Linked DNA regions of Homo sapiens. The protein of the gene in region 7 purifies or fractionates together with the protein of the main gene of each other region. This does not show direct contact. Each region holds a gene or a part of one and is shown on either strand. Other genes may lie near its edges. The genes, in order: RTN4, ZDHHC3, MCM8, RUFY1, NBAS, SEPTIN3 and COPB2.

Region 1 (3,500 bases), on a different chromosome or scaffold from region 7:
TAGGTCACCTCCATCTACGGTTGTCAGGGCACTGAGATAAATGAACTCAATAATGGCACCTTCCATTTAGGCGAGTTTATAAATCAACCTACAAAGTTGGGGAGAAAGAACACGTAGGCAGACCTGGAATCCTTAAGTAAGCTTCTCTCTTTCCACAAAAGCAGTTCACAGATCTGTAAATATGTCCTGTAAGGCCAATCACAAAACTCCTCTGGTTTTAAGAGCAGAAAATTCTTTACAACTAAGGGCCTGTATTTTTTCCTTCATCTGCTACCTATACCTCTCATAAGTACAACCTCTATTCATCTTTCTTGTCCTCTTACTCAGCCCTAGGCCTAGTTAAAAAAAAAAAGGAATATATTAATTTTTTTCTTAATATTGAACTTCCAAGAGACCACCAATATAAGCAGCAACTCCAAACTCTTGAACAACAAAACTTTATAAACTTTCTGTATCTGTGGTAACAATTCCATCAATGAGAAAAACAAGCTATTAAAGAAATAATTATTTTTGAAAAGTAGAGGGCCACCTATGTAAAGAGACTGCTTTAAAAAAAAAAAATCCAGTATTTGGCAGCTATAGCTCCTAATACAAGAGTACAGAGAATATTTCTTTCTTTCTCAACACAATTTTTTTTTTTTTTTGGAAATGAAAAAGCAGGAAGACTTAGCTTTCTTTCTCAGTCAATTATCAATTGAAAAGAGAGAGCCAAATACCTGTATAATTCAGTATGTTACAAGGAGGCTAGAATATTTATTTTTAAAAGTCTCTAGTTCACCTAATTATATGCTAAATTTTTTTTAAATACATGTTAATAAAAACCACGTGTTTATGGAAAAATACACAATATCAACACCGAATGTATTTCAATTCTCCCCAAAATTAATCCATAAATGTAATGCAACCTACTAAAACTCCAACAGAGGGAGAGGGGACAAGATAAAAAAAATTTTAAGATGAAGTAGAAAATTATACACACATAAGATAGCCAAGAAAAATATTTATGGAAAAGCCGTTTAGCTAGTATTTAAAAATTATAGCACAACAGTCTGATACTTCTGTGTGAACTGACAGATAAATGGAAAAGCAGAGGAAATATTTCACCCATACTACAAGAATATGACAAAAATGGTACTTCAAAGTGGTTAAGAAGGATAATTCAAAATAAAAGGTATTGGAACAAATGGGAAATAATCTTGAAATATAAAATTATTTCACTACTTCACTCTCTAGAACAAAACAAACTGCAAATAAATCAAATAATTAAATGTTAAAATGAAATCATAAAAAGTATAAAAGTACTTACTAGGAGTAAACATGGGGGAAAATTTTTATGATCCTCAAGAAGGATTTTCTAAGGATTACATAAAACTCAATGACTTTTTTCACTTTTATGACTCAAAGTCATAAAAGAAAATGATAAATCTGACTACATAAAAATTTCTAAACAGAAAAACATACCATATGGTCAAAATACAAATAACAAATCAATAAAAAGTTTTCAAGACATATGACAAAAGGCTAGTTTCCTTACAATGCAGATTAAGTGAATCTACATACATGAGACCAAAAACCCAAAAGAATAGGCAAAAGCTGTGATCAGAAAAAATTTGACACCTAAGCCTATGAAAAATGACTCAAATTTAAAAGAACAATTTGCTAAACAATGTATTAGTTCACTAATATACTGTGTTGGTAAAGATATAAGGGAAAAGGTACCTTAACAGGTTGGTGGGAATAAAGGTTGGAACCATTCTTTGAATGACACTTTGGCATTAGCTACCAACATTTTAAATGCAAATATCCTTTGAAGCAGTAATTCTACTTGCACAGATTTATCCTACAACATATATAATGGCATGTATTCCCAAAGAAGTGTATACAAGAGTGTTCACAGAAATAGTATTTGTAAGAGAAAAAACTAAGTATCAACCTAAATAACCATCAATAAGGGACTGATTAAATAAAATATGGTACATCCCCAGAGTCCTCTGCATCTATTTTTGTGGAAAATAAAGTGAAAAGGATATACATGTATAAATAAATATTTATCCACAGATTATCTCTAAACAGATACTCAAGAAACTACTAACAGAGGGTGGATCTACAGAAGACAATTTGTGGAAATCTGGGTAACAGGTAGAAAGAGTTACTTTTCTGTGTATTCTTGTAGTACTGTTTGGAATTGTTACCTTGTATACATAAATAAATAAATGCTTTCGTAAGATTTGGGATTTTTATTGAGAGAAGATATTATAGTAATTCTAGAACTATACAGAATATGAAGATCAGCATCTTTCTCATTCAACAAACTGAGTGCCTATCACATCTAAGGCACTGCAATGCAGACACAATGCATACAGTCCTTTTCCTCAAAGAAAAAGGTCACAGCACCTTTCCTCAAGGAGTACACTGTCTGGTGGAGGAAAGAAATCAGTAACCATACCATTACCTTATATAGAATGATATATACTATGAAGAGGTAAGAACAGAATATTATGGAAACACGTGATGAAAGCAACTTAAAAATCAATGATCATCATTCCAAGAAACATAAATATCAATAGCTTAAATATGAAATTATCAACTCCTCCTTTGGGGTTAAAAAGGATGATGATGGCATTAGTCTGAGAAAATCTTAGCATCAGTAAAGCTGGGTCTCATCATTTTGCATACCTATGTCCTGCACTAGCTATCCACAAAGGTCACATTCATTCAAACACTACTGAGAACTATGGTTTTACCATTACAGTTCCCATCCCTAGTGCTGTCATCCTCAGAAGAACCTGATCCCTTTAGAAACAGGAACAAAAAGTCTCAAAGAATGTACCATAAGTATAGTATATCTGCAACATTTACTTCTATTTATTTAAGGGTTCCAGGGAAGAATCAAGAAATAGCCATTCAGTTTATACTTTTATCCTGGGCTAGCAAAGTACCTTAAAAAGGAACCATTAAATTGAGGCTTTGAATCAAGTTATTCTAATAAGTTGCTTGAAGGTATATTATGAAAATAAATGGCGGGGCACAGTGGCTCACACCTGTAATTTCAACACTTTCAGAAGTCGAGGTGGGAGAACTGCTTGAGCCCAGGAGTTCAAGACCAACCTGGCCAACATAGTAAGACCCCATCTTTAAAAAAATAAAAATAAGGCTGGGAGCAGTGGCTCACACCTGTAATCCCAGAATTGTGGGACACCGAGGCAGGTGGGTCACCTGAGGTCAGGAGTTCAAGACCAGCCTGGCCAACATGGTGAAACCCCGTCTCTACTAAGAATACAAAAATTAGCCAGGTGTGGTGGCACATGCCTGTGGTCCCAGCTACTCGGGAGGCTGAGGCAGGAGAATTGCTGGAACCTAGGAGGTGGAGGTTGCAGTGAGCCAAGATTGCGCCACTGCACTCCAGCCTGGGCTACAGAGCAAGACTCCACCTCAAAAATAAAATAAAATAAAAATAAAAATAAAAATATATTTAGGCTGGGTGTGGTGGCTCACGCCTG
Region 2 (3,500 bases), about 94 Mb from region 7:
GTTCCTACTTGTAGGGAGCCAGAAAGTTTAATCCCTCAATTTTTGTTTTAAGTATATAGATTATCCTTATCTCTAAGCCAAGGGGAGATCATTGCACCTGATTTCAAGTTTGTTAAACCAGTCTGTATACAGCTATTTCATACAGGCTCCAATGGTTGAATTAATTGCCCTTTGTTGATGCTACTTTGTACCGTCTCAAGATGTGTGCTGTTCACGAGTGCATGAATGTTCATGTGGATGTGAGAATGTGGGTGGATGCGGTGTTTTAGAAAAGTAATCCTCACAAAGTACTTTGAGGTGCTTCCAAAGATTTGGTTTTAGATCTGGCTGAACTACTCCATGACTTTAGTGTGGGATCTTGTCTTATAAAAGCAGGTGAATAGGACTTGTTGGCAATCTGAGAGGATGGGGGTCCTTGGTACACTTGCTGGACTGAGAACAGTGGCATTTTGGGACTCTAATACATTCAGTAGAGAACTTTATGTTTGATGTGACAATCATGCTTTGACCCTGTCCATAAAGCATGGACTGTGGGTCAGGGTTTTGTTTTGGGTTTTTTTGCCACATGATAAAGATTAGTAGGGATTTGCCCCTCACTCAACAAATGATGTAGCTGGATTCTGCCCATCACTAGCAGTCAACACTTGGCCAGGCCAGTTCATCCTGGCCAACCCGATGAAGTGCCACAGTGGGATGGGGCCTGAGAGCTTGGCATTAGCACCACGATGTTCAAACCCTTTGAGCTGCCTACCATGGAGAGACAGCATGGGGACTGAGGCATAAGTGGTATACCCCAAGGCTGACTCAGCAACCCAGTCCCTGGGGCTCATGGAGCCCCAGACTCCACTTCACTAAGTATATTTGTGTCTGTCAGTGTGGGTTAGTGGAAGAGCACACTTATGATAAGGTATAATGAAGCACGTGTGTTATGTATGGATCTGGAGGCAATTCTCTGGACCACAGGCAGTTTTTGTTGTTGCTTTTAGAATAGCACTAATTTCAGGCATTTCTTGGTTTTGGTTTCTAGAACTCTATGAAGGAATACTAGCTGATTTCCTTTGACTTCCCACACACTGCCCCTCACAGAGCTCAGATCATCATTTTGACACCACATCTTATCAGGATTGCTGGCACTAGGGAGCTCCAGAACACCTCTGGGCCTGTGGATCCGTTTCCCCTGTGACTTCCTTACCCCCGCCCCTCCCCAGGCTTAGTTCCTTTGCCTTTCTGGGCTTCAGTGAACTCTTCTATCAGGTGAAAATAATAATTACTTTGAACATGGAATACTAATATATGGAGGCGCTAACTCTTTTTAATGCTATAAAACCCTTAGCCAAAAAACTTCAATATAGATTACTATAATTCAAGTTACAAAATGATCATTGTTCTAGATCTTCCTTGGAAAACTATTAGCCACTTAGAGGAACAGAAAACCTAATACCACCAAAATGAGACTCAGGCCTGTTGCCCTTGTGCCTCCCTGGACTTGTCGGCCTCTGGACGCAGACCTCTCATCTGTCTTGCCTGTCACTTCTAGAGTGGTCTTGCCACAGCATGAGTACTATTCCTGCACAACTTTCCTCAGAAACTTTATGGCTCACCAGTACCTTTCAGGATGAAATCCCATCTCATTATGAAGTTTAGAGGCTTTCTAAAACACAACTTTCTCCTACCTATAAAGCCTCATCTCGAATCACCTCCTCTCTTTCCTACAAAGCCTGCATCTGTCCACAGACACGCACACAGCCCTGGTCATCCTGCCCCTCCTCTTCCCCACTAGTACCACCAATTTTCCTGCCAGGCCCACCCGGCCCCCCTTGCCTTTTTGTAAGCAGTATGCTTCACTTGGCTCCAGGTGCTGCTCAGAGCCCACCCCTTCAGAAGTCCTTGCCATGAAAAAGTCTATTTATTTCACTTATGGTTGTTGGGGTTTTGTTGCTTTTGGTGTTCGGGTTTTTCTGGTACTATTTGTCCCTTTTTTGTGCTATTCATTAGTCACCTATGTGTTAGCATTATTGTGGGTGTGTCTGCTTGATATATGTGACCAGTCACTCAGGAATTATTGATTTGAGCACATATACCAAACACTAGGCTACAGAGCTAAATAAAATGAGACTTGCAGGTTGGTGGAAAAAAAGCAAATAAGACTAGTGTTATTAGGTTGGGAGCTGGGGGAGGGAACTGGCAGGGCCTGAGCAGGGCAGCACACACACATTATTGTCCACATCATCCCTCGTGTGTGAGCCCCCTGCACAGCTCCTTGCATTTAGTGGCTGCTCCATGAATGTCTTTTTGAGTTGAACTGAATAAAGAGAGGAGTTTTTAGAGACCAAATAGGGCAAGGGGCCGGGGTGAAGGAGACAGGGAGGGGGAACTAGAGGAGGCTGCCCTTCTGAGAGCATGTGCTGGCAGATGTGGTTTGGGGCTTAGGGCCCATCTTCGGGGCCCTGTCCCAGAAGCCTGAGTAACCAGTTCTGCCCAGCTCCTTGGAAGTAAGGACACTTGTAGGGAGGTGGGTCCTTGGCAGAGGTCTACTGCTCAACCCTAAGGATTGGAGTTTCTCTAATTCAAAATAGAAAAGGAAAAGGGGGTCCATATTTGCCTTTTTTGTTTTTGTTAGGGGTAGGATAAAGGGAACATATACAGTTTGTTTCGTGGTGGGTTTTTTTTTTTTGCCATATTTCTCAGATTTTCAGTTGGCTAATTTAAGGAACAAATCTTTTCTTGAAAGCTACTTTTGTTGCTTTTGGGAGGTCTGGGGGTTAAGCAACCTTTTTATAGCAGTATGCCTTTCTTGGTTTTGATGGGGATATTTTGAAACTCTAAGTGTGGAATGTGCCCTTCAGGTCAGGACTTGGTGTCTGGCCCTGCCAGGTACACCTTTGGCTTGGTCCTTTCCTAGATCACAGGTTCTCGCTCACCAGTGAGGGTCATGGGAAAACAGAGCTCCTCTGTACACTCTTTGGTCCCACGTTGTTTGAAGATAGAACATTCCGGTTACTTGAGTAAGAGTCAGTCCACTTACCTCATGGTCCTACTTGACACACTCTCCACCATGCAGAATATGGTCACAGTCCTGAAACTAAGCAGACAGTGCCTCTAAGAAGTGGGCCTGGGATCACAAATCTCATGCATTCATTTAATCAACACATGTATTAAGTGGCTACTCTGTGCCAGCCACTGGGCTAATAAGTCCTCCTCTCAAGGACTATATGGTGAAGAGCTTAGCAGTTGTTCCCTGAAGGCCTATTACCCAAAATGACTACCCTTTTGCAAATAAATCTAACAAGACTTAGTTTATTTGCTTTTCTAGCCCACAGCCAATTAGCAGTAGTAAATAGAGGATATGTGGGTATGACTGGTGACCGTAGACACAGAAATGAGTAGGCAGGAATGGAGGAGGAAGACAAAGGATCATATACAGAGATGCCAGAACGGCAATTATAACAGTCTGAGCAAGCCAGTTGATGTGAAGCCGAGACCCAGTGAATTTCAGTAGC
Region 3 (3,500 bases), on a different chromosome or scaffold from region 7:
TGCCTTTCAAGGTCCTTAGTTAACACCTAAACAGGACAGACATTTACTCTGAAGTTGGAAAACAAAACATCCTCTTTATACAGAACTCTATTTTTATAGAGAATATAAAGTTTATGGACAGAAACAGAATAAAAACAGAAAACTTTAACAGCCCTTTAAATATCTAATATTTAATTATGACTACTTACTTTATAGTGGATGTTTTACATTGGATTTTGCTGTCCCTGTGCTGAAAAACTCCAGCATCCCAGTCTGCTACTTTCTGTCCCAACTAAACCTAACATTAAAAGCCCTTACATTAGTCCCCAAAACCATCACCTCTTGATACTAATTAAAAAAAAAAAAATGCATTCCTATTTCTCTATATTCACTGACCAATCAAGACACAGAAAATAAAAATGACCTTTAAAATACCTAATACTCACTCCCTTGGCATTTAACATTAAATAATATAAACACGCTGGGCGCAGTGGCTCACACCTGTTATCCCAGCACTTTGGGAGGCCAAAGTGGGTGGATCCCCTGAGGTCAGGAGTTTGAGACCAGCCCGACCAACATGGTGAAACCCCATCTCTACTAAAAATACAAAAATTAGCCAAGTGTGGCAGTGCATGCCTATAATCCCAGCTACTTGGGAGGCTGAGGCTGCAATGAGGCAAGATCACACCATTGCACTCCAGCCTGGGCAACAAGAGCAAAACTCCATTTCAAAATAAATAAATAAATAAACAACAAACAAACATTTAATACCACTTGTACACAGCAGTTTGCTGGCAACCTAAGAGGCAAAATAAGATGCATATATACAGCTGTAATTGTCATAAGGACCATAAAGATGTACAGACAAAATACCATGCAAGTTTCGAAAAGTGGTCATGAGAAAGGTTTTACAGACAGACAACTGAGCTAGGCCCAAATAATCTGTCCATGTGAAGGGAAGGGGATTCTATGTTGAATGGACAGCACAGGCAAGAGGTAGAAGAATGCCCCTCTGAATGCCCCAGCACTTTGTGTATGCCTGTCCTGAGATTTGCTATTCATTACCTTGAAGCATGTATCTGTTTGCTAGCCTAAAAAATGTTTTTGGCCGGGCAAGGTGGCTCATGCCTGTAATCCTAGCACTTTAGGAAGCCAAGGCAGGCGGATCACAAGATCAAGAGATCAAGACCATCCTGGCCAACATCGTGAAACCCCGTCTCTACTAAAACTCCAAAACTTAGCTGGGCATGGTGGTGCACCCAGCCACTCGGGAGGCTGAGGCAAGAGAATCACTTGAACCCGGGAGGCAGAGGTTGCAGTGAGCGGAGATCATGACACTGCACTCCAGCCTGGCAACAAAGTGAAACTCCATCTCAAAAAAATAAATAAAAAATAAATTTAAAAAATTTAAAAAGTTAAAAATGTTTTCATATATGTTGTATTACCTGACCCTGAAAAAAAACTCAGGCAAGCACAGTACAAACTGTTATTTACATTTGATATACAGGGACACTCAGTGGTTTGCTTCATGCCACAGAACCTAAATCTAAGGTTGCTCTTTTTTGCTCTAAGTTCATAACCGATAACACCATGATTCCTTGTTTTATCTTCCCTATGAGATTGTATAACTTCTTGAAAGCAAAGTTTAATTTCTGCACAATCTTTAGCAAGATTAAGCAAATCCAAATAAGTTGGAGGTAAATATTTCATTTAGATAAGCTGTTGTATATAGAATGAATGGTATCTTTCAGAACGGAACTGCAACCTCTCAGTTCTAGCCAACATCTTTTCGTAAAAGCTAAGTATCTCTTATAGAAAGTACAGTCACTGTAAAATCTTCCTTTAAACTTAGACAAGGTGTGCATGTGTGTGCAAACATTAAAAAAGTTTAGACAAAAGTATGCATAAGACAAATAGTTACCTGATGTATTGCCAAACCCATGCAAGCCAAGGTTTTCTCAGGTGCATCTCTTAGTTCAGTTGCTATATCTGGTATCAAGTTAGTTACTTCACCACCTTCTGTCAGTTCTTTAAAATCTACCAAAATACTTCCCTTTCTTTCTATTTCATCCTATAAAATATAAAAGTATGAAAACAATAATTGCTTTTCTGTAGTCAATTACCATTAACTGAGCATTCTATTATAGACTTTGAGAAAGCATACAATGTTTATATGTGATAATGGTAAGTATGACATAAGTATAAGCTTTGTGCCAAGCATGGTTCTGATATTTTAAATATATTAATGTATTACTGCCTCTTAACAATCCTTTGAGGTAGGTATTTATACCTCTATCTCCAAATGAAAGAAAACTGAGGCACAGAGAAGTAATTAATCAAAGTCCATACTGCAGGTAAGTGGCAGAACTGAGGTCTGAACCAAGGAAGTCTGACTCCAGTGCCTACGATCATAATCACAAGTACCTCGAATACATTGGTAAGATGGCACATGACTGGTAGCTTTGCTGTAGAGGAATCTTACCTTGTCATACAAATCAATATGCCTTGTGAAAAATTTTTCAAATGCTTGAATCTTCTCAATCAAAGGAGAGCTATCGCTGTAAACTAATCCAACAAATATGGCATTAGCACAAATAATCACACAGGTACATGCACATTTTTCATGAGACAAAAGCAGCACTATATACATGGTAGATGATTTTTTTCTAATTGCTTTGTATTTTGATTACATTCATATAAGAACTAGTATAGAATGTAAACTTAAGATTCTAAAACAAATTTAGGTTTGCATAATGTGAAATGCAGACAGAAACTCTCTCTCTCTAAAAGCCCCACTATCTGGGAAACTTTGTTTTGCATCTTTGACACCTAATAGGACATGTTAGTTCAGATAATTTAGACAATAAGCTTAAACTAAAAATTATAATAAAGCCAAAGCCAGACACATAAACTAAGCTCTTACTCTGACAGAGCTGAAGACAATCACAATCACAGTCTTTCCTGAGATCAGGAGACAGACCAACACTTGACCCTGGTGGCAAAACTGAAAAGCCTTTTTTTTTTTAACACTCTAAAGTTCTACATTTTCAAATATGTCTCTCACAGAAGAACAGTACAATAAAGTAGTTTGGAAGCACAGATGGTGAAGGCTAAGGCACCTCTTGAACTCCATCTTTAGGACTGTCCAAAGATCACTTATAGTGTTCTGAGCTATCTGCTAGGGGAGCAATGGGAGTGCTGGTGGCTAATACATCCTAAAGGAACAAAAGATCATTCATGAAACAGATTCTATTGATGGAAAAAAACGAACAGATTTCCAATAAAGAAAACATTTGTAAAGTACTCTATTCATTCACAAAATGACTACTGCATGCCTGGTATGGGGCAGGGAGGGTCCTGGACCTCAAACGTCTAGTTTTCCTAAAAAAAAAAAGTATGCGGCTGGGTGCGGTGGCTCACGTCTGGAATCCTAGCACTTTGGGAGGCCGAGGCGGGCGGATAACGAGGTCAGGAGATCAAGACCATCCTAGCTAACACGGTGAAACCCCGTCTCTACTAAA
Region 4 (3,500 bases), on a different chromosome or scaffold from region 7:
CAGGCGTCCACAGCAACCTATCTAGACTGGGACACCAAGGAGGAGAGCTGTCAAGTCAGAGGGGAGCAGAACTACCAGGGTCTGCACCCCATCAGCACCTGCAGCAGAGACAGACAGACTCTGGCGGATGCAGTGGCCAGTTCCCCGAAAGGAAGGGGGCTGTGCTGTGCAAGGCGGGTGAGTGCACCTCTACTGTGCCAGGCTTCCGTTCCCAAACCAGCCCTGCTCCCTCTGGCCTGACTGTAGGCTGACCAAGCGATCCTCTCATTGCCCATCTGTTCCCTCAGGCCCTGGATATGAAGCTAAGGAATAGGAGTGTCCTGGTCACTAGGAATGAACGTGCTTCCTGAATTAACTAAGAGCTCGCTGACACCCCATGTGGGTAGCAGAGATCAGTGCTGGGCCCCTCTGAGGCCGGGCTTCCTGAGAGCTCATCCGTGAACGGCGGACTGAGCTCCTAAATGGCCCACCCTCCGTTCGCCAAAAGGAGGTAGGTTTGGGGCCTGAGGGATGTGGTGGGTAGCCTGGTGTGCCTGCAGTGGCAGACAAGGGGAGTGGGGTTCTTACTGGCTGAGGTGCAGGCCCATTTCCTGGAGGGCTTGTTCCTGCTCCTCGCAGATCTTCTGCAGCTCTGCCTTCTCGTCCTGAAGCTCCCGCAACTCCTAAAATGAACAAACCAACCAGATGCTGGACAGAGGATTACACGGTCCTTTTTTTTTTTTTTTTTTTTTTTTTTGAGACAGGGTCTTGCTCTGTTGCCAGGCTGGAGTGCAGTGGCACGATCTTGGCTCACTGCAACCTCCGCCTCCTGGGTTCAAGCGATTCTCCTGCCTCAGCCTCCCAAGTAGCTGGGACTACAGGTGCCCGCCACCATGCCCTGCTAATTTTTGTATTTTCAGTAGAGACGGGGTTTCACCATGTTGGCCAGGATGGTCTCAAACTCCTGACCTCGTGATCTGCCCGCCTCGGCCTCCCAAAGTGCTGGGATTACAGGCGTGAGCCACTGCACTGGCCTTTAAAAAAAAAAAAAAGATTCAGCAACCAGAGCAACAAGCAGATCAGAATGTTTTTCAAGAGCAAAAGGTGGCCAGGCACAGTGGCTTATGCCTATACTTCCAGCACTTTGGGAGGCCAAGACAGGTGGATCACCTGAGGTCAGGAGTTTGAGGCCAACCCGGCCAACATGGTGCAACCCTGTCTCCACTAAAAATACAGAAATTAGCTGGGTGTGGTGGCAGGCACCTGTAATCCCAGCTACTTGGGAGGCTGAGGCAAGAGAACTGCTTGAACCCGGGAGGCGGAGGTTGCAGTGAGCCGAGATGGTGCTACTGTACTCCAGCCTGGGCGACAGAGCAAGACTCCATCTCAAACAAAACAAAACCAAAAAAAAGAGCAAAATGCAGTCCTGTATTAATGTCATTCAAGATTATTTCTTGCTAGCTTACTCTTGACACTGGGCAGCTAAAAGGCAAGCACTCGACGAGGGCTCTGCAGCTGGGGACAGAGACATGGGACAGGATAGTTACATTCATCAGCCACATTAAAAATAGTTACCCTCAGCTGGGCGCAGTGGCTCACACCTGTAATCCCAGCACTGGGAGGCTGAGGTGGGCGGATCACCTGAGGTCAGGCATTCAAGACCAGCCTGGCCAACATGGCAAAACCCCTCCTTTAGTTAAAAATACAAAAATTAGCAGGGCATGGTGGCACATGCCTGCAATCCCAACTACTCGGGAGGCTGAGGCAGGAGAATCGCTTGAACTGGGGAGGCGGAGGTTGCAGTGAGCCGAGATCACACCACTGCACTCCAGCCTGGGCAACAGAGCAAGACTCCGTCTCAAAAAAAAAAAAAAAAAAAAAAAAAAAAAAGTTACCATCATAGGACAAATGAGGCTTTGCCTATTTGAGCTTCTTTTTAAAAGATAAACATTTTACAAAACAGATTGCTATCTCAAAAAATCTATAGAAGAACTGTACACAAAATCACACGAACCTTGCATCAGCAAAGACTAGTTTGAAAGGTGGTTTCCTGTTCAATTCTGAAAAAGCTGCTTTTTTGGAAAGCACTGGTCAAGGATGATGAAGGGGGTGACCTGGGACCTCATTTCATGGCTAGACCACTTGGAGGCTGGCTAGACCATGTGAGGAGCCCTGCACGGAGGGAGTTCCCCAGGGGGCAACGGCACTGACACCTGGGGCCAGTGCACCTTGAGCCAGTCTGTTAAGGCCAGGATGGAGACCCAGAAAGTAACTGGGGTTTCTGGGACCACTGGGAGCAGCGGTGGAGCTCGGGCCCGAGTGGCGGGGTGGCTCTCTGCACACCCTGTGCCGTAGCTTCTGCTTCCATGCACAGGCTTGCAAAGCACAAAGCTGTGGCTTAACTGGGGTTATTAGACATTGTTTTGTTCCTATTGTTGGGGCGGGCTGTAATTGTGTAATTCGAATCTTTTGACAGAAGCATTCTGAAGCAGAATAAAGGAGGTATGCCCCGTGATGAGGCGGGACTTTCTGAAAGTCCTCTTCTGCCCTCCACTTCCTCCCTTCCACTCTCCAAGCCTGATCTGGCTCTTGAGGAAGCTCTCCCTTCCCCAACAACTCCAGGCACTTTCCAATGGAAATCAAAAGGGCCTTTCCTGACTCGCTCGAATCGTGCAGTGTGTCCATTACCACGTTCAACACAACAAAATCCAGGTCCAGAAGCCACCCTGGCCCTGAAGGCCCCTCCGGGGCAGGTGCCGAGGGGAGGTCTGCTTTGGGCTCAGTTTTCCTGCAGCGCTCGGCAGCGCAGGGGCCTGAGAAGAGGGCACGCCATCCCCACGTGGGAGGAGCCCCCCAGAGCGCCCCAGGCTGCAGTCAGCTCCATCCAGGATCGCAGAGCCTCCTCCCCTCTGGGAAAACAGCCGATGATTTTACATTAGGGCAAATGTTCCACACGGCCTCGGAGTTTCCTGGGAGGTCCAGTTCCACAGCCAGACAGTGAAGGCCTGCTGGACCCCACTTCTCTCGCCCTCTGAAGCCCACAGCATCCAGGCCATGCCTCCAAGTGAGAGGGTCCTCCATGGAACTGAGGTGATGTAGGGGAAGTGGAGGGCTGGGGTCGGTCTGCTTCCCAGGGATGACCCGACCCTGGGCACAGTGGCTGAGGTGAGGCTGGCATGTGGTAGGAGATGTTTACTGGTTCCTCCCAGCTTCCTCTCCTGCGAGCCTACCACCCACTCTCCACACAGGAGCCAATGACCATCCGCAAACAGAACGGATCCTGTCCCTCCACCAGCTGCCCACTCTGGTAAAATAAAACCCACGTTCCTTCCCCTGGCTCCCAGGGCCCATGAAGGGCTTCCTCCTGCCTGCCGCCTGAGGCCGCCTCTTTGCTCCTCACACTGCTGTCTGCTCCTGCAGTCTCCACCCAAGAGGTGCTTTGCAGGGCATAACTCACTGGAGCCTCTGCTCACCGGTCGCTCCCTCCCCAGGCCCCTTGCACACGGGTGAGGACACTGTTC
Region 5 (3,500 bases), on a different chromosome or scaffold from region 7:
CTGTAGTCCCAAGCTACTTGGGAGGCTGAGGCGGGAGAATCACTTGAACCAGGGAGGCAGAAGCTGCAGTGAGCCGAGATCGCACCATTGCAATCCAGCCTGGGCAAAAAAAAGCAAAACTCCATCTCAAAACAAAACAAAAAAAATCATAAGCTCCCTATGAGCAAAAGCCACATTTATGCCTGTCCTGTACCCCTTCACAGTCCCTAGCATAGTGCTCTTGCTCTTAACTGTCTATTTAACTAAACGAAATATTCCCCTCCCCAAAAAAGTACTTGCTTTGTCTCTCTTAACATCCCTCAACTCCCTCAGAGACAAAAACTGTCCTTTACTGTATCCCAGAAAAAGATATACATGAACTCATGAGCTCATTGTCTTAGATCACAAAACAAGAAAGAAAAATAATACAGAATTAGTGTTTTGATTTTCTAAAGAAAATACAAGCAACTTTATCTTCTTCCGTTTCATTACCTCTCATGCTCTTTCACCTCTGATATCTTGCTTGTATTAATGTTAGGTTTATCATCCTGTTTGGCTGATGCATCATCTTCTTCCATACAACTTTTTCATGTTATATTTTTACTTTTAATTACTAACGTATAAAACTTTTAGGGAAATAATCATCATGAAATTTTCCCAGTGTTTCCTATAATCTTCCACAATGCAAAGGTATTTTCCTTTCTATATGTTAAGATCAGAAGTCTCAACCTTTTTAAAAGTATGCCATGAGTCTAACTATAATTCTTTCTTACAAAGATGCCAAAGGTTAAAACATATAGGCTTGCTATGAAATCAATATGTCCCCCAAAATCCATATGTTGAAAAACTAATCCCCAGAGTGATGATGTTTGGAAATGAGACCTTTAGAAAGCAATTAGGTCATGAGAGTGGAGGCCCCATGATAGGATTGGTGTCCTCATAAGAGGAGGCAGTAGAGAGCCTTCTTTCTCTCTCTCTGCTGTCTGCCATATAAGGACACAGCAAGAAAGAAATCCATCTGCAAACCAGGAGAGTGCCCTCACCAGGAACGAAATTGGCTAACACCTTGATTTTGCACTTCCCAGCCTCTAGAACTAAGAGAAATAAATTTCTGCTGTTGAAACCACATAGTCTGATATTTTTGTTGCAGCGGCTAAAACTAATTGAGACAAGACTATATTAACCTTAACTATGGGAGGCAGGTAACAGGAAGTATCCAGTTTTGAGATTTAAGTTTTAAAAAGGCATATTTCGCAGTTTTCATATATGTTACCTATTTATTGCCTCTCAGCTCCAAATTTCCCCTCAAAGCCAGCTCTGTGGTAGCATATCTCATTTGTGGTTGACACGATTTTAAGCTCTGGGTGCTGGAGGGCCACTGCAAAGGAAGAGGCTCTGCTTTCTAGTCCTGATGTGCTTTGGTTCTTTTCTTCTTGCTCCTATGGCTTGGCCACCAACAAGGCACGTGGGCAACATCAAGTGGCACTTACTTCCCCGCTTCCTCCCTCTGTTGACAACCTCCCACTGAGTTTCAGTGACACTCTCATGGGCAGATTGTTTTCTAGTGAATCACCCAGGCACCTGAGAGGGAAGCTTCCCAGACTGGAAGCTACAGTAAGGCTGCCTATAGGAGTAGACAGTTTTTTCTTGCCAGTCTTGGCCATGATTCCTTAATTATCTACCAGCCTTGAGCCACATGCATGCTGGTAGGGGTTTCCTGCTTCCTAGTCCCTGGGGTCTTCTAAACCCCAACCTCAGCTCACTGGCCCCCCCCAGAAGCAGGCGTCCAGCTTTCCTATCCATCCCATATCTCCCTGACTGCCAACCTTGGCAACCGTGGACCAGCCCTGGCTCAAGGCAACCCAGAGAACTTCTCTTCCATCCTACATGCTGCAACCACTCCTGGTCCAATGGGTCTGAATCCCAGCCTAGGGGAGGGGCCTCCCTTCCAAGTTCATTCCCTTCATGGATATGTCCCTTCAGCCCTAGGGTAGTCCTTAGCGTTCTCTTCACATCCTTTATAGTTCATCTCTGGTTACTAGAAAATAATTCTCCATATTGTAAATTTCCCTGTTTAAATTACTGTGTGATTTCTGGCATCTGACTAGCTCTTGACTCATGCAGGTAAAGAGAAGTGATTGTGGTACAGGAAAGAAAACGTTAGGCCGAGACCAAGTAGTTAGCTGGTTTATCTGTGAATATTTGTTCACATGTATTCAGCATCAAAGTCCAGTTGCAGGGGCAATAAAATCTAACAAAAAGACCATTTTTCCAGCTGAGAAAATTGTACTTCATTGGCTGTATTATAGAAAAGTCAGCAATGTAAAGTACTCTAAAATGAAGCCCTATAAACAAAAGATATTACATGAATATACATTTTACCACATTACCAAAATATTTAAACATACCAAATAATTCTGAATTGAAGCAACGTTGACCGCTGACTTCCTCCACTGCCTCTGATATACAAGGTCAGTATCCAGGCCGTAGGTATGAGCCAAGGACAAGGCTTCCTCATACTCTTCACTTTCAATCTTCAGATAAAAACACGAGGACAGGAATGTTACATGACTGAATTATCCACAGGGTCCTGATGATGATACAATGAATGATGATAATCCCTTGGACTTATCCAGCATGTCACTAATTCCTGTGCACTGTGGCACCAGAAGCTCACAGATATTTTGAGGAGCAGAAAGATCTCGTGTTTCTTTCAGCACTTCAACAGAAAGATGAGAGATAAAAGGTGCAAAGCTCTCGTTTTAGAGTAAAACAGCGGCAAAACCAAGACAACCATGGAACAACCCGGCTTCTAGTCCAGAGCTCCTACCACGACATTGCAAGAACAGCACAAATCACGTGAACACACAGTGCTGGTCACCTCGGCTTCCCAAGCAAGCCCTGGACTAGAAAGCAAGTCTGAACTTCTTCCTTCACCCTCTGTAGATGGCTGATTTAAACACAGATAAAGGGAGAGCTGAAGGCCACATGAAGGGTAGCAAAGAAATGAGCTAAGCCACCAAGTGGATAATCAGTCTAAGTGAATTCAATTTTTATCCATGGTTTTGATTTTGATTATTTAGGTACAAAGATTAGCATTATTTTAAAAAGCTTTATAGAACTGATATTTTTAACATGTCAATGATCCAACATCCCTCTTGAAATTTTCTCCTTTATTAAAAAATTAACTTTTTCTCAATAAAAGAAAAGCTTGATGACTTCAAACTTGGGTAGTAATATGCTACTCTCTCACCTTCCTCTGATAAAGTTCCTCTGGTGTCGTGGAGCGCAAACTCACAAGGCGGTAGTTTTTAGTAATGGTTCGTGGGCGTTTCCGTGGTGGTGCAAATCGCTCCATTTCAGTCACCAAGTAAAGGCCCTGTTTTATATAACCAAAGTAGCGAGCCTTGGCAGATATTTCATAATCAGAATCAGAATCCTCTTCTCCTTCATCTTCTTCTCCAGCTCTAGTCTCCAAACGAGATCGTTTGGGGGCAAGTTTAATCTCACACTAAATTGAA
Region 6 (3,500 bases), on a different chromosome or scaffold from region 7:
TATTCAGTGGTCTTCACAGGTAGGTTTGGAGGGTGGGAAGAAGGCAGCCCAGAGCTGTGCCATCTTTTCTTCATCATAGTCCCCAGATACCACCAACCTCAGCCTCTTGAATGGTTAAGAAGGGGGCTGGGGTGGAGAATTGGGGGAGGGTTGAGGGTGGGGGTGAAGGCAGAATGATGAGGGCTAGGAGATGGCCTGAACCCAGCGGAGAGAAAGGAGGGGATGGGAACAGGAAAAGAAGACAGGGGGCCTTCTCACCCTTTGCTTGAATTCAGACTTCTCCTCCAGGGTCATGGTGTCAGCCTTAGCAATGACAGGGATGATGTTCACAACCTTGCTGAGGTGTTTCATGAACTCAAGATCCAGAGGTCGCAAGCTGGGGCACAGAAAAGGCAGAATCATCAGAGCCACCTTGCCCTCCCCAACTCAGCCACCACCACCACTCCAGGACACCCACAGGAGAAGAGGACTGGGCTGGGCATCTGGCTGAGGCCAAGAGGCTGCTACCTCTCGTCTCCGACACAGCCCCACTGCCTTGCCGTCTGTAGAGCAGCCTCAACACCTGCCTTTTTCTTTTTCAGTCCCCTTGCAGATTCTGCCTCTCTTTAAGCCCCCCTCAAACCACCACTTCAGGACATCTTTTCTGACTCAGGGATTTCTTTCTCCTGGGAGCATCTGTGGACTACTGTCTCTACTCATATGTCCTTGTGCGTGTGTGTCTTTTTTCCTTTTTTGTCTGTCTCAAAAACAAAAAACAAACAACAACAACCAAAAAAAAACAACACTGTGTGTGTCTTTTTTTTTTTTTTTTTTTTTGAGACAGGGTCTCACTTTGTCACCCAGGCTGGAGTGCAGTGATATGGTCATTGGCTCACTGCAGCCTTGACCTCCAGGGCTCAAGCAATCCTCCCACCTCAGCCTCCAGAGGAGCTGGGACCACAGTTGCGCACTACCATGTCTGGCTAATTTTTAAATTTTGTGTAGAGACAATGTCTTGCCATGTTGCCCACGCTGGTCTTGAACTCCTGGACTCAAGCAATCTTCCTGCCTCGGCTTCCCAAAGTGCTGGGATTATAGGCGAGAGCCACCGTGCCTAGTGTGTACATCTTGTTCTGCCTATCAGACTACTTCTTGACAGGTCTCCTCCTAGCCCCCAGAGTTAGTCCTGCAGGGCCAAACTGGAGGCCTTGCCCTTCCCACAATCTGACAGTCTATGCCCCCATCCTACCTCAGGCTCTGAGACCCCAACTTGGCTCTATTTTGCAATCTCAGGGACTCACTAAGTCAGTCTGTCTGATGGTTCATTCTGACCAGGGGGTCGAAGCCTAGGGAGGGATAAAACCAGCCTTCTGTTGAGTTCCTGGGTCTAGCCCAGGGGTCTTGTTTCATCTCTCTTCTCCCCCTACCATCACTGCCTGGTTCCTAGAAAATTTGGGGCTTACCTTGCTTGTGCCATCCTCTGAAGAGCTTAACTCTGGCCCAGCAGCTGGGCTTAGTAATGTTATGGGACCCCCCTCCCCCGGTCTCTGCAGGAAGGTTTCTGGCCTGCCCCCTAGGATCTCCATCCTCTGCCTGTTCCCAGCACTTCCTTCATGGGGCCCACCTGTCACTCACAATCAGAGTTCCCAACATGCTTGTGTGTGTCTTATTCTGCCTATCAGATAGTACTTCATGACAATGGTTGGCCTTCATCTCTGAACACACAATGCCTCACTCCAGGCTGGTACCTTCTAAATGCCTACAACTGGGTCCCTACCCTCCAAACACCAGCCCCAATCCAGGAGCCCTGCACTGCCCTATTTCACCCTTCTTGCTGCTCCCTCCGACTCCAATTATTTTCCAAAGCAGGTATTTGGTGAATAAATGAAGTGCCCTCTGCTCACATTCACCAAGTCCTCTTTGCTGATACAGTTGTGCCATGCTGCTGGGACACCAGTGGGCAGATATTGGTGGCTGATGTTGGACAGCTTTAACCTCCTAGCAAGAAAGTCAAACTTCCTCGTGGAAAGTCTAGGGAATCCCAAGGTCATGGGCCATGACTATGTACCAACCCATCTGGCTGGAAGGGCTAGGACTCAGCTAGGGAGGCCTAGCTGAGTCAACGTATGGATCATCCAATCCAGATGGGCACAGATGATACAAACCAGACCAGGCCTGACAATAGGGGTAGGGTTGGTACATACGAGTGTCCTGTGGGAGAGATGAAGTAAAGGCAGCAGTGGACACGAGTGTCAGGGATGCGTTTCTTCCTGGCGATGTTGACCTCCTCCTTCAGGAACTTCTCGTACTGCTCATTGATGTACTTCTCAATGGGCTCCCAGCTGATGGGGAGGGAAAGTAGATAGATGCATCAGAAGAACAAGACCTAGGGCTCAGCTTAGGCATGATCTGGTAGCAATCTCCTTACATTCATGTCATTCCCTGGTTGGTGGGCCTAGGATACCTGCTGCCAGATTCCCCCTCAGCCCCCGCACCGATGGCTTTCCTGGATGGTTAGTTAGCAGGGGTGGAGCTCCCCAGGGGCCCTGGCCTGGGCTGTCGGGAACTACAGAGCATGGAGGGTGCAGATGGTTCTCAACGTGAATGAATCTGCACCATAGTAAGTATCTTCCCAGCAGAGTCTTTAGGGCAAAGATCTCAGAGGCAGACAGATACCAGTTTTCATTGTTGATTTGGTCTCCAAAGCCTGGGGTGTCGATGACGGTCAGCTTCATTTTGACACCGCCTTCCTCTATCACTGGGGGTGAAAAGAAAATGTACCAGAGAGGTCAGTCCTACAGCTGACCCCAGGTACCTGGCAGCCTACTAGCCAGGGAGACCCAGGCCTTGTCTTCAGGATCAGTTATTGGAAAAGTCAAATTTAGGGTCTTTTCCATCTCGATATCATGGCTTATGCTGTTCCCTGTACCTGGAATCTGGAATACCCTCTCTACTCATTTCTTTTTCTTCTTCTTTTATTTTTTTTAAGAGACAGGGTCTCACTCTGTCACCCAGGCTAGAGTGCAGTGGTGCAATCACAGCTCACTGTAGCCTCGAACTCCCCAGCTCAAGTGATGCTGTCGCCTCAGCCTCCCCAATAGCTAGGACTACAGATATGCACCATCATACCCAGCTAATTTTTTTTTTAAGAGACAGGGTTTCGGGCCGGGCGTGGTTGCTCACGCCTGTTATCCCAGCAGTTTGGGAGGCCAAGGCAGGCGGATCACGAGCTCAGGAGATCAAGACCATCCTGGCTAACACAGTGAAACCCCATCTCTACTAAAAATACAAAAAAAATTAGCCGGGCGTGGTGGCGGGTGCCTGTAGTCCCAGCTACTCAGGAGGCTGAGGCAGGAGAATGGCGTGAACCCGGGAGGTGGAGCTTGCAGTGAGCCGAGATCGCACCACTGCACTCCAGCCTGGGCGACAAAGCAAGACTCCGTCTCAAAAAAACAAACAACAAACAAACAAAAAAAGAGACAGGGTTTCACTGTGTTGACCAAGATGGTCTCGAACTCCAT
Region 7 (3,500 bases):
TGTAAAATAATTTTAAAGCTCCACAGGTTTAGACTTCACTGTGCTAGAAACTCCTCTCTCACAAGATGTTTGGTGACTTACAAATCTTAAGGGAGAAATTCAACTGACAGTTCGAATTACAAATAAGAAACAGAATTATTATCAATCCCAAAACTTTTTCAAAAGACACATATCTCAGAGTCAGGTTTTCTTCTTGAAAGAGCAATGAGTCAGCAAGCATTTAGAGAGGGCACCTACTAAGTCTCAGCATAAGACATACTCCTTGCCCTCAAAGGAGCACACAAAAACACAAACTCAATGCATGCGAAATAACAGGAAACTACTATTTAACTATTCAAAATTGTGTGGTATAGAACAAGTCCAGATGGGAAACATGCTCCATCTTTTGTGCCAACTTGATCAAGTGGCATGGCTGACTGCAGCTGTGTTGAGGATTGTGAGGCCAGGGCAAAAGCACATTGAGGAATGATTAGAGATGCCAACCACAGGGCAAGAGTGGACTGTGGATCTGCAAACCTGTTCTAACATACACAGAAGCTGAGGGACAATTTTGGTGATGGCTTACCGCCCATTAGGATTGTGCTGAATAGTCTGAGGGTATATTTCACAACTGCCCATATCCTTTACTGCCAGTGGCAATCTTTCACCATCTTTAATTTCAGCATCTCCCATTGCTTTTAGGTTGGCCTGCTGGACTTCTGAATGCTTGGCCCAAATTATCTTTCCATTGGCATCCATGGACATGGCAGGTTCCTCCCGACCAAGCTGAAAGAAAGAAAAATAGCTCTCAGCAATGAAAAGGAAAATGAATAAAACCAAAACAAAACAGATTATTTTTTTCACCTAACAGAGAGCTCCATTTCCTTTCTTCCACTTTAAATCTTCATTGCTTAATGTCTAGTGCTTAATGAAAGAAGTGCCAGTTTTATAAAACTGGTTACTTGGAAGATGACAGTACTAAAATACAAAGAAAATGGTTTTGCCTATGTCCACCTACTGAGAGGGATAGTATAATTACCTTAACAATGATGCTCCCTTCATCATAGCCCAAAGCGACATTGTTTGACCCTCTTAGACTGGCCACGCACCATACCCTCTCCATTCCATAATTCAGTGTGCTCTCAAGCCGGTAGGTGCTTGAATGCCAAATACGTACTGTTCCTAAAAAGAACAATGTAAATACTCCCTTTTGATACAAACATCCGACAATAAACTGTGTCAGGTGAAAGAGACCCATAGAAGTCTTTCTATTCAAACAGATAACACTTCCTGGCAGCTTAATGACCAATTTTTTGACCTACTGTCTTTAAATGATTTTTAAAAGCAACATAAACATAACACATAACATATAAGAAACAAAAACTAAGAATTACGATTTTAAACATGAAATAATAACAGGATTTCCTGGGTAAAGTGTTTCCTATGTGCCAGATGCTTTCTACCCACAATTTCTTCTCACTATAATTTTATGAAGCAGATATATATGTTTCCATTTCATAATTTGCCCAAACACACATTCATGACATAACAGAGCCTGATTTTGAACCCAGGTTTGTTTGACTCCAAAGCACATGCTTTTTCAGTTTCTCTTTAGGACAGCTGACGGTCCTCTTATTTAAGTGACAGAATCAAAATACATGAGAATGATGACGATGATGATGATGATGATGATGATGATGATGAAAATAATGCCCCTTTACTCTTTTATAGCTTAAGTCTGGTACTTTAATAAAAATATCAAAATCCTTGGAAACCTACAATTATAATGCAGAGACATTACTTGCTTTAAATGCCCACTGAGTAGTTACTAGCACAGGAATAAACATACCCTTCTAACTTACCATCTTCTGAACCTGTGATAATGATTGGCAACTCAGGATGAAAGCTGGCACAAGACACATTTTGGGCATGTCCTTCCAGTGTCTGCACACATGTTTTATTCTGTAATTAAGACATAGAAAACATGTTTTATTAATGAAAAACATGTAACCAGCCCGCCCTTAATTTTCTCAGTGTACAGATACATTATAAATGATAGTAGTCATGAAAATCTAAATAATATCCAATATAGAAATTTTTGAAATAGGATGATCTTGTTGTATATATGAATATTTTATCTAATTACTTTGTAAAATAAATGTAAATGTAACTATCACATTTAAAGAAGGGGAAAAAAACCCAAGAAGGCTTTTGTCTGAATATTATTCCCCCAAATTCTCAGGATAATAGATTTCCCCCTTAAAACTCACACCTACCATCACTGGCTAAGTAGACAGTGCTGCTTTAGCCTTTAATATTTTTATTCTGGATTTAAGTACAAATCTGAAAATGTTTCAAGGAAAAACTGACTTTCTAGACCTCATTTTATTAATTGCTTATGGGAACTTTTGATGTGGAAAACAAAAATATCAAAATATAAGAAAATCTTAGAGATAGGAAGCATGTTAACAAGAATTCATAACTAGGTTTACAAGAGTACGATTTGGCAAAATGGTTGGTAATTGTTGATCTGCTAGCTTACAAAAATGAATAGAAGTCTATCAATGAAGATTATGGAGGATAATTCAACATTAAAATGTTAAAATTTCTAAATGCAATTATGAAATGAAATATGAACATGTTGGTATTTTATTTTTAAAATCTTGATATGCATTGTTTTCATTTTTATGGAGAATTCTGGGAACACAGTTTAGGTGCAAATACTGATACCTTAAGTTATTATGCTGTGAACAGTTTTCAACAACCCAAGTCTTAACTGTCCTATAAGAAATAGTAAGAAACATATCTAACATATGGAAGTAAGGTTATGAAAAACTGTACCTGATAATCCCATATTTTAACAAGACGGTCATCTGCACCTGAAATGAGGTATGGCTTGTCCCCACCACTGTAGTAATCAATGCAATTCACGCCTTTCTCATGTCCTTCCAAAGTGAAGTTTGGTGACGAAGAGCCCAACTGCCACACCTGCAGAGAGAAACAGCATCGGCCAGTCAATATGGGGCCTTGCTTTACAAAAGGCAAATCCACCATATTTCTGACACATTATGTAAAATGCCAAAGCCCAGGAGAGAAGAGCTATCAAATTTTATTTTTTATCCTGTTTGGTTTTTGTTCTTTCTCATTTTACTTGAATTTTCAGGGAGCAAAATCACTATGGCGTTCTTTAAAAGAAGTGCCAATTTCCAGGCTTTATCTCTAGAGATTATAAGTCAGTCAATCCACAGTGACGCCCAGGAATCTAGATGTTATGAAATTATTTTATTATAGATTTAATATACAGCTCATGAAAGTAGATTTAGTAAGATATATTAAAAGTTGCTGGGTGTGGTGGCTCACACCTGTAATCCCAGCACTTTAGGAGGCCGAGATGGAAGTTATCACTTGAGCCCAAGAGCTCAAGACCAACCTGGACAACACAGCAAGACCTTGTCTCTACAAAAAAGTAAAAAGTAAAAAATTAGCTGGGCATGAAGGCACACGCATGTAGTCCTAACAAC

What was found.
Region 1: the proteins of COPB2 (region 7) and RTN4 purify together in Homo sapiens (affinity purification with mass spectrometry; one large-scale study listed by BioGRID and IntAct). This does not show direct contact.
Region 2: the proteins of COPB2 (region 7) and ZDHHC3 purify together in Homo sapiens (affinity purification with mass spectrometry; one large-scale study listed by BioGRID and IntAct). This does not show direct contact.
Region 3: the proteins of COPB2 (region 7) and MCM8 purify together in Homo sapiens (affinity purification with mass spectrometry; one large-scale study listed by BioGRID and IntAct). This does not show direct contact.
Region 4: the proteins of COPB2 (region 7) and RUFY1 purify together in Homo sapiens (affinity purification with mass spectrometry; 2 studies listed by BioGRID, with this or other methods). This does not show direct contact.
Region 5: the proteins of COPB2 (region 7) and NBAS purify together in Homo sapiens (co-immunoprecipitation; 2 studies listed by BioGRID and IntAct, with this or other methods). This does not show direct contact.
Region 6: the proteins of COPB2 (region 7) and SEPTIN3 purify together in Homo sapiens (affinity purification with mass spectrometry; one large-scale study listed by BioGRID and IntAct). This does not show direct contact.

What each region holds. Positions count from the first base shown.
Region 1 is NC_000002.12:55,040,452-55,043,951, forward strand, and holds part of RTN4 (reticulon-4), read right to left. Parts: intron 1-3,500. UniProt on the Homo sapiens protein: Required to induce the formation and stabilization of endoplasmic reticulum (ER) tubules. They regulate membrane morphogenesis in the ER by promoting tubular ER production.
Region 2 is NC_000003.12:44,962,675-44,966,174, reverse strand, and holds part of ZDHHC3 (palmitoyltransferase ZDHHC3), read left to right. Parts: intron 1-3,500. UniProt on the Homo sapiens protein: Golgi-localized palmitoyltransferase that catalyzes the addition of palmitate onto various protein substrates.
Region 3 is NC_000020.11:5,953,652-5,957,151, reverse strand, and holds part of MCM8 (DNA helicase MCM8), read right to left. Parts: intron 2,545-3,500; coding exon 2,462-2,544; intron 2,051-2,461; coding exon 1,901-2,050; intron 27-1,900; coding exon 1-26. UniProt on the Homo sapiens protein: Component of the MCM8-MCM9 complex, a complex involved in the repair of double-stranded DNA breaks (DBSs) and DNA interstrand cross-links (ICLs) by homologous recombination (HR).
Region 4 is NC_000005.10:179,599,054-179,602,553, reverse strand, and holds part of RUFY1 (RUN and FYVE domain-containing protein 1), read right to left. Parts: intron 3,287-3,500; exon of another isoform or gene 3,165-3,286; intron 3,070-3,164; exon of another isoform or gene 2,919-3,069; intron 2,482-2,918; exon of another isoform or gene 2,456-2,481; intron 663-2,455; coding exon 568-662; intron 491-567; exon of another isoform or gene 288-490; intron 178-287; exon of another isoform or gene 1-177. UniProt on the Homo sapiens protein: Activating adapter involved in cargo sorting from early/recycling endosomes. Regulates retrieval of proteins from endosomes to the trans-Golgi network through interaction with the dynein-dynactin complex.
Region 5 is NC_000002.12:15,470,835-15,474,334, forward strand, and holds part of NBAS (NBAS subunit of NRZ tethering complex), read right to left. Parts: intron 3,491-3,500; coding exon 3,233-3,490; intron 2,514-3,232; coding exon 2,388-2,513; intron 1-2,387. UniProt on the Homo sapiens protein: Involved in Golgi-to-endoplasmic reticulum (ER) retrograde transport; the function is proposed to depend on its association in the NRZ complex which is believed to play a role in SNARE assembly at the ER. Required for normal embryonic development.
Region 6 is NC_000022.11:41,986,443-41,989,942, reverse strand, and holds part of SEPTIN3 (neuronal-specific septin-3), read right to left. Parts: intron 2,738-3,500; coding exon 2,656-2,737; intron 2,322-2,655; coding exon 2,184-2,321; intron 377-2,183; coding exon 259-376; intron 1-258. UniProt on the Homo sapiens protein: Filament-forming cytoskeletal GTPase. May play a role in cytokinesis.
Region 7 is NC_000003.12:139,372,648-139,376,147, forward strand, and holds part of COPB2 (coatomer subunit beta'), read right to left. Parts: intron 2,968-3,500; coding exon 2,821-2,967; intron 1,942-2,820; coding exon 1,842-1,941; intron 1,162-1,841; coding exon 1,019-1,161; intron 766-1,018; coding exon 566-765; intron 1-565. UniProt on the Homo sapiens protein: The coatomer is a cytosolic protein complex that binds to dilysine motifs and reversibly associates with Golgi non-clathrin-coated vesicles, which further mediate biosynthetic protein transport from the ER, via the Golgi up to the trans Golgi network.